Regions from separate parts of the Homo sapiens genome. Here all the other regions are linked to region 3. The links come from fine-mapping of genetic effects on gene expression. A gene starts in region 3. Each other region holds a variant in brackets. All regions are shown on one strand. Distances are from middle to middle. Region 1 has its middle 6.4 kb from the start of LINC02518. Region 2 has its middle 170 kb from the start of LINC02518. Region 3 holds the start of MARCKS (myristoylated alanine rich protein kinase C substrate).

Region 1 (2,765 bases), 420 kb after region 3:
TAAGTCCTTACTGAATATTCTTTTTCCTTACTTCTGGGGTGTCTCCACTGTGAAAGGATCTTCCATCAGAGCAACACTTCCGGTCTTTCTAATCTCCTTTACACACCACTTTTCTAGGGTGAAGATATGGTCTTTCTGCTTGGTGGGTTTAGAGAAAGGAACTGGACCTTCCCAGACCAGCATCTTGTTTTTGGAATCCAGCTGTCTGCAGGAAGCACACACCCTGCTCTGTCCTTTGTGACTAGGTGCGTAGATCTGCCCAATTCTGGACTGTAGTACCCAAGCCACATCTTCAGATCTAGCTTTTAGGGTAACAAAGGTGATAGCTTTTCCAAATGCTAGATTCCTCTCAATTAGTCCCAAACTCAGGTAGGAAAGAGGGGTGATGTTTATTGGACCTCTCAAACCCCAACACAGTAAAGCTCCAAAGGGATATTTCAAAGTACCTCCTCTTCGATATATGAAGAAAGAAATAATCAGCTTTCTTTCCAGCCCTGCTATTTCCAGTGATTTCTCATCTCATGGAAAGTCTATCCAGTTGTCTAGGCCTCTGTCTCCCCTCTTCCTTTCTTCACATCTAGTTAATCTCCAGGTTCTTGTTAATATTTTTCAAGTTCAGCTACTTTCTTCAATCTCACTACCATTGCCTTTGTGGACACCCTCATAACTCAACTCCTAGATTACTGCAATAGTTTGTTGTTGTTTGTTTTTGTTTTTAATTCTTCCTGTTTCTCAAAGTATAAATCACAGATTTTCTGCATCCAAATCCCCTATGTTTGAAACCAATCAGACCTAGTGAAAAAGAATTGTAGGTAATTGCTGTGCATACCAAAGGCTGTGAACCCCTGCTAGTATCCTTCCAGAAAATGTAAGGTAAAATCCTTACATTTTCACTGCAGTGATCTTTCTAGAGTGCAAAGCTGGTGATGATACCCTCTTGCTTAAAATTACTCATGGGTTTTCCATTAGCCATAAAGACACAGTTGAAAATCGACAGCATGACATACAAAGCCCTTTCATGCAGACCTGACTTGTGCTCACGATCGCACAGCTTTAGTTCTTGACATAATTTTGTTTTTCTTTATGTGCTCCAGTCAAAA[C/T]GTGTCACCTGCATGCTCTTAATTGATCATGTCATTTCTGCTCCTGGTTCTTTTGTTCAGCCTGCTCCTTCCACTCAGAGCAGCTCCTCTAACCCCGACTTCTTTGTAACTAACATCCTCTGGAAAACCTCCCTTAATCTCCTTCTTTCCCAGGCTGGGTCGGGTGCTCCCCCTAAATGATCCTTTTTTCTGTCTCAGTCTTAGTAAACCTCACATCTTGTTCTGTAATTTTCCATTACGTTGTCTATTTTCCTTATGAGATAGTAAAGTTCTTTAGGTAAAGGAATATATCTTAGTTTTTCTTTGTATTTCTAGTACCTAACATAATAACTGGTACATTACAAGTGCTTAATAAGTTTTGATTTGATATATCCTGTGTTTCAAAGAGCCTAACTTTAAAGAAAGCCAGTCTACTCGGTGTATAATGGACAACCAGAGATAAGCATTTTTTTTAAACGATGTGTACAGAGAATAAAAGATTATTAGATAGACCCTGGATTCAGCCTCAATGCATTTCTTCAGTTTGTAGTCTAGGAAGACATTAGACTACATGCTTTGCATGCATTTTCTCTTATACTCGAAACATTCCCATGCAAGGGAGGTACTAATGAGGTCCCTGTTTTATGAAAAGACAACCAAGACTTAGGTTTAGTGACCTGACTGAGCCACATAAGCCATTTTTAATGGAAAATAGTTCAGGTAATCTTTAAACCTAGCATGAATGGAAAAGAAATTATAGCATCAAGGAACACATTTTAAAATGTTCAATGAGCATTGCTATGTGCTAGCAATATTCTAGGAGCTGTGAGTCTATCAAGGTAAAAAGAGACCAAATTTCCTGCAGTGATGGAGCATATATCTTCTAGGTAGTTATATCATCTTCACTAACACTACTAGTTTAATCAACATTTTAAAAGACAATAACAGTTTTGAGCATTTGACTCACTTGGGACAGTGAAGATAAGAAAAGATAAAAATTTCAAGTCATGCAGCCATGGGAGGACTTATTTTTTCCTTCATTTTTCTCTAAGTGATATCTGGGAAATGGGAATAGGTTTTCATGTACCCATAGCTTTGCAGGCAACATGAAGATCATAATCTAAACCTGGGCCTGGGGTAACTTGTTGGCCATTATAGCTATCTCTTTATTAGAGACACTAAGCAATCTAAGCAATGCCCATGTGTGCAATGTCATGCTTAGGGAAGCATCAAGGAAAAAAGAACAGCTGGAAACAGACAGAAAGGTAGTAGGAAAATAGAAAATGGAATGAGAAAGAGAGGGAACAAGGATATTGTCATTGATGAAGTATCATATAAGGATACACTCTATGCATCCTGGAAGCAGGGACCTGACCATACTGATCACTAGTGTGTAACTTGGGATCGAGCAGAGTGCCTGTTAGTTAGTTGGTGTTCACTAAGTGTATTAGAAAGATAACTTATTGAAAGAAGTCTATTCATTAATTCAAAAAAAAATCTGTTATGTGCTCTGATATATTCTGGCCATAGGGCAAAGCCTTGGTCCCTGCCATCAAGGGATGCAGAGAATCTTTGGAGGAATAAAACATAACCAAATTATTGAAGGAAAATCATGATGAATACTATGACAGAGAGATGAACATAGTGCTATGGAAACACTAGAAATAGCTACTTGCTCTATCTCAG
Region 2 (2,765 bases), 590 kb after region 3:
ATCTGTGCCTTAAGGACATGCTCCTGCTGCAGATAAATAGCCAGAGCCCATCCCTTTATTTCAGCCCATCCCTTTGTTTCTCATAAGGAATACTTTTAGTTAATCTATAATTTATAGAAACAATGCTTATCACTTGCTCACTGTCAATAAATATGTGGGTAAATCTCTGTTTGAGGCTCTCAACTTTGAATGCTGTGAAACCCCTGATTTCCCACTCCACACTCTATATTTCTGTGTGTGTGTCTTTAATTCCTCTATCACCGCTGGGTTAGGGTCTCAATAACTGAGCTAGTCTCAGCAAGTGGCGCTGAACATGGGGCTCAAACCCTGGTTGAAGGGTCGCTGGAGCAATCGTTGGAGAATGTGGAACTAAGGTGGAGGACACCTGAGTACTCTTAAAGCAATCCCCATGGCGAGTAACAAGGGGAGTTTGGAAGCATCAGGGTAACAATGGGACAAGTTTGAGCTCTGGTTCGTTCCACCTTGGAACCTTTTCACACTGATCATGTGGAGGAAGGGGAGTATAACAAAGTAACAGAAGACGTTATAGAGCAGGTTTGTTTGCAGCTAAAGCTAAAGTGGTAAAGGAGGGAGAGGTTCATCCCTACCCTTCTTCACCCCCTCATTATTATTTTGAAGAAAAAGAGTGGCCTGACCCTCCAGATCTTTCTTTCCCAGAGGACACTGGGTGAAAAGTATTTGCCCCAGTGACTATTTGAGCAGCACCTTGAGTGACTGCTCTGCATTCTATTCAGGCAGGAATTCAGCAAGCTAGATGAGAGGGTGATTTAGAGGCTTGGCAGTTCCCTGTTAGAATACACCCTCCAGATCAACAGGGAAATATTATAGCTACATTTGAGCCTTTTCCTTTTAAATTTGGGATACACCATGAGGGGCCCATCCCTGGCCTTGTTCCAAACTGGGGCATTTTCGGCTCAGGCCATTCCCTCACCCCTGTACAAGGTTTGTCCCCGACCACAGCCAGTAGTGCCACAGTAGATTTATGCTGCACAAAAGCTGTGAGCCTTCTGCCTGGGGAATCCCTGCAAAAGGTCCCAACAGCGGTCCATGGACACTTGCCAGTGGGGATGATAAAATTACTTTTAGGAAGGTCTAGTTTAAATTTAAAAGGGGTACAAGTACAAACAGGAGTCATTGATTCAGATTACAATATGGAAATTCAAATTGTTATATCTACTTTTGTTCCCTGGAAAGCAGAGCCAGGAGAGC[G/A]CATAGCACAGCTCCTGATTGTGCCATATGTGGAAAGGGGGAAAAGTGAAATTAAATGAACAGGAGGATTTGGAAGCATGAATAAACAAGGCAAAGCAGCTTATTGGGTAAATCAAATTACTGATAAATGTCCTACCTGTGAAGTAACTATTCAGGGAAAGAAATTTAAAGGCTTGGTAAATACAGGAGCAGACATTTCAATCATTTCTCTACAGCACTGGCCATCAACGTGGCCAATTCAACCCACTCAATATAACATAGTTGGAGTTGGTAACGCCCCCAAAGTATATCACAGTGGTTATATTTTGCATTGTGAAGGGCCCGATGGACAACCTGGGACTATTCAACCACTTATAACTTCTGTACCTATAAATTTATAGGGGAGAGATTTATTACAGCAATAGGGAGCACAACTTCTAATTCTGGAACAATTATATAGCCTTCAAAATCAACATATGATGCATGAAATGGGGTATGTCCCTGGTATGGTACTAGGAAAAAATTTGCAAGGTTTGAAAGAACGGCTTCAAGAGGAAAGACAAAGTTCCCACCAAGGTTTAGGATATCATTTTTGATGGTGGCCATTTTTAAGCCTCCAAAACCTATACCTTTAAAATGGTTAACAGATAAGCCAATTTGGATTGAACAATGGCCACTAAGTAAAGAGAAACTGGAGGCTTTAGAGGAATTAGTTACTGAACAATTAGATAATGGGCACATAGCTCCAACATTTTCCCCTTGGAATTCTTCAGTTTTTGTAATTAAGAAAAAATCAGGTAAATGGAGAATGTTAACTGACTTAAGAGCCAACAATTCAGTTTTACAACCTATGGGAGCATTACAGCCGAGATTGCCTCCTCCTGCTATAATTACAAAAAATTGGCTTTTAATAGTCATAGATTTAAAAGGCTGTTTCTTTACTAGCCCCTTAGCTGAGCAAGACTGTGAACAGTTTACTTTTACAATTCCTGCAGCGAACAACCTGCAGCCTGCTAAGCATTTTCATTGTTTTACAGATGGGTCTAGTAATGGTAAAGTTTCTTATTCTGGATCAAAATGTAAAGTTTTTCAGATGCCCTATACTTCAGCTCAAAAAGCAGAGCTTGTAGCTGTAATTTAGGTATTGACCGCTTTTGATATGCCTATTAATATGATTTCTGATTCTTCATATGTGATTCATTCCACACAGTTAATTGAAAATGCTCAGTTATGATTTCATACAGATGAACAACTGATGACTTTATTTACCCAATTGCAAACAGCAGTTAGGAGTAGAATGCACCCTTTTTGTTTTTTTGACAGAGTCTTGCTCAGTGGCCCAGGCTGGAGTGCACTGGTGCAATCTCAGCTCACTGCAAGTTCCGCCTCCCAGGTTCACGCCATTCTCCTGCCTCAGCTTCCCAAGTAGCTGGGACCACAGGTCCCCACCACTATGCCTGGCTAATTTTTTTTTTTTTTGTATTTTTAGTAGAGACTGGGTTTCACTGTGTTAGTCAGGTTGGTCTCGATCTCCCGAACTTGTGATCCACCCGCCT
Region 3 (2,765 bases):
GAAGCAGCCACCCATGGCCGACCTCTCGGGTCCACCCAATCGTGGCTATCTGCCTGGGTCCGGGCAGCGCCGGGCGGCCCCTCGCGGGTGGTCGAGGCGCCACGCACAAGAACAATCCCGACCGAAAGGCACGAACCGCCTCTTTTTGACCATCTGGAAAGGTTCTTAAAGGACCCACCGAGTGTTCCCACCCCACAGATACCATTTAAAAATCAAATGGATGTGTAATTCCACAGACAGCTACGAATAAAGATTTAGGACAGTGGGAAAGCCTCATCAAAAGGTACCGAAGCCCTCTGTCTGGCCCCAGCCAGCCACCTTTCCAAGAACCCAGGGCACGCCGCCGCGGCATACAATAAGACAGCCTTTCCCTCCTCGCCTTTCTCCACCACCATCCCCATTGCGCCCCCCTTTCCCGACTCCCCCCCCCGCCACACACAATCACACCACCAGTTCAGAAATCTCGAAGACAATCCAGCTTCGACAACAAACCCGAGAGACACCCAAACACCATTGTGCCCCCAAACACAAATGAAACCTGGCTGGGGGCGGGGGAAGGAGGGCACCTAGCTAGTCACGTTCTGCCAATCTCCAAACCACGCCATTTTAGACGATTTATCACTCCTTTCCTCCCGTCTACTCAAGAATTCTCCAGGATTCTAAGGAACCACTCCTTTGGTGTGGGGGGACCCCGGCTATGAAAAATCCACAATTTAGGCTATCCATTTCCATTCAACTTTCAGACTAGAATCCAGCCACACTCCTCTCCACGAATGAGCCTTGGGAGCCACCAGGAGGGAAGGAGAGAAAGACACGAAATAAATGACCACAACCACAGGTAGAATTTACCTGTCCGTTCGCTTTGGAAGGCGACGAGGCCACAGCCGCCTCCCCAGGCCTCTCCGCGGCGGCTTCTCCCTTCGCTGCGGTCTTGGAGAACTGGGCACCCATGCTGGCTTCTTCAACAAAGAAACTCAACAGATCCAAGAGGGGAAACAAAGAGCCTCGGGTTGGTGTAACGACGGGGCGAGCAGCAGCAGCAGCGGCGGCGGCAACAGCGGCAGCGGCACACACACCGGAGGGAGGGGGGTGGGGGTGGTGGAGAGGACAGAACAGAACCGATTAAATACACTCCGGATAAAAAAATTTTAGTCGAAGAGATCAAAAAGCAGCAGCACAGGAGGGAGGGAAAAAGGGTGGAAAAGTCGAGCACAAAAAAAGGAGCCCAAGTGTAGTTCGAAAAAAAAAGAAGTAATAAAAAAATCCCAGATTTGTAGCCGCACTGTAGACAAGAGGAAAATGGAGAAATCTCCCTGGTTGCTAATAAGATGCGGGGTCCAACGCCCAAGTGCACAGATGAATGGGCTCGCGGGCGCTGACGCGGCCCCCGCGCGCGTCGGCCAATCCGCGCGCCGCACACAAAGCAGGGGGCGGGGTCTGCGCGCCTGGCGAACAATGGAGCCGCGCTTTGCAAACGGTTTGAAAATCAGCCTCAGACCGAGAATTAATGTCCTCCAAATAAATAAATCAATTAAAAAATACATGGCACTCGTCTCTCTCTGCTTGAAAATAATAATGCATTTCTTGATTGGCTTGCTTTGTTTGGAATTAATTAACACGGGAGGGGGGTACTTGTGCATCGGGGCGGAGAAAGCGTTAACTTGACTCGCATTGACTCTCGTCGGTCTATATCCGTGTGTCTCTCTCTCTCCACTCGCTCCCCTCCCCCATCTTTCCGTGTGTTTATGTGTATGTGTGTGTATGCGAGTGTTAAAGACAATGGTTGCGATTTGTGTGTTTGCAGCATGTTTTCTTTCTTTTTTCCATATTGGTTTTACAGATAATGCTCAGGGTTTGTTTTTTGAACTGCTGCAATGGTTAAATCGTCCCAAATTGAAAGGTATTTAAACCACGAAGATCGAATTTCATCAAGCGAGATCGCAAGTTAGAATTAGGTCTGTAGGCCAGATGTGGAAAATGCAAAAGCGGCAAACAGCGAAGCCACACTCCCTTCCCTCTCCCACATTGGCATGAAATAAAATATTTTGAGATTGGCCTTGGGCGCTCAACAAATTCCCCCTTCTCTGGCTATTCCCAATTAGTGATTTTTTTCCCCCACAATTCAAAGTGAGAGCCATTTACAGAAGATCGAAACTCTTCGCGTTTTATCACTGTTTTAAATGACATAATTTTCCTCTATGGTGAAATGAGACACAGCCTCGAGTAGACGAATCCATATTTACAGTTGGGATGTTATTCGCGTCAATATGGATCGTTTTCAGCCTACTGCCAGAATCGAATGGACTCTTTTTGAACGTGTGTGTGAGTGCGCACGCAGGCGAATGTGCTCCTGAAAGGAAGGGAGGCAGCAGCAACGATGACATTCTAAACCGGATTGCAGTTCTAAGGAGAAATGTTCTGTATGTTGAGAGATAGCAAGATCCCTGAGCTCTCCAAGTCTAACTTGGGTTAGAGGAAAACCTTCTATAATGGTACACAGGATACCTCCATCTGTCACTGCACTCCTTGCCACCGAAGTACCAGACGCTTTTTGTGCGTGAGAGACAAGGCACTGACTTAAAGTATGAGGGGTGAGGGGAACCAAGGAAACAGCTTAATAAGCATTTTCTTCCCAAAGTTTTCACTCGTGGCAAAATCAGACCACCTTTTCTCGTTTACATTTGGTGATCTTGCAAGGAATAATCTTTCGCTTATGAAGGTGAGAAGCAGTCGAGGGAATGGTTCATTTCTCCTGGTGCTGGCTC

Evidence for each region. PIP is the estimated chance that this variant, and not a neighbour inherited with it, causes the effect. A credible set is the group of variants that fine-mapping cannot tell apart.
Region 1: its variant is the best candidate, but not a certain one, in a credible set for the expression of MARCKS in whole blood (TOPMed, PIP 0.69).
Region 2: its variant is the best candidate, but not a certain one, in a credible set for the expression of MARCKS in whole blood (TOPMed, PIP 0.63).

Annotation. Positions count from the first base shown.
Region 1 is chr6:113,438,447-113,441,211 of GRCh38, reverse strand. No RefSeq gene overlaps it. Among named protein-coding and RNA genes, the nearest start is that of LINC02518, 6.4 kb to the right of the region's middle. The variant C/T (reference allele first, on the strand shown) is at 1,101.
Region 2 is chr6:113,265,519-113,268,283 of GRCh38, reverse strand. No RefSeq gene overlaps it. Among named protein-coding and RNA genes, the nearest start is that of LINC02518, 170 kb to the left of the region's middle. The variant G/A (reference allele first, on the strand shown) is at 1,231.
Region 3 is chr6:113,855,932-113,858,696 of GRCh38, reverse strand. It overlaps MARCKS (myristoylated alanine rich protein kinase C substrate), which reads right to left and starts at 1,352. Exons shown (of 2, transcript NM_002356.7): 1 at 850-1,352. The coding sequence starts at 951. RefSeq lists enhancers at 1,271-1,320, 1,108-1,651, 1,652-2,197, 2,468-2,517, 2,538-2,597.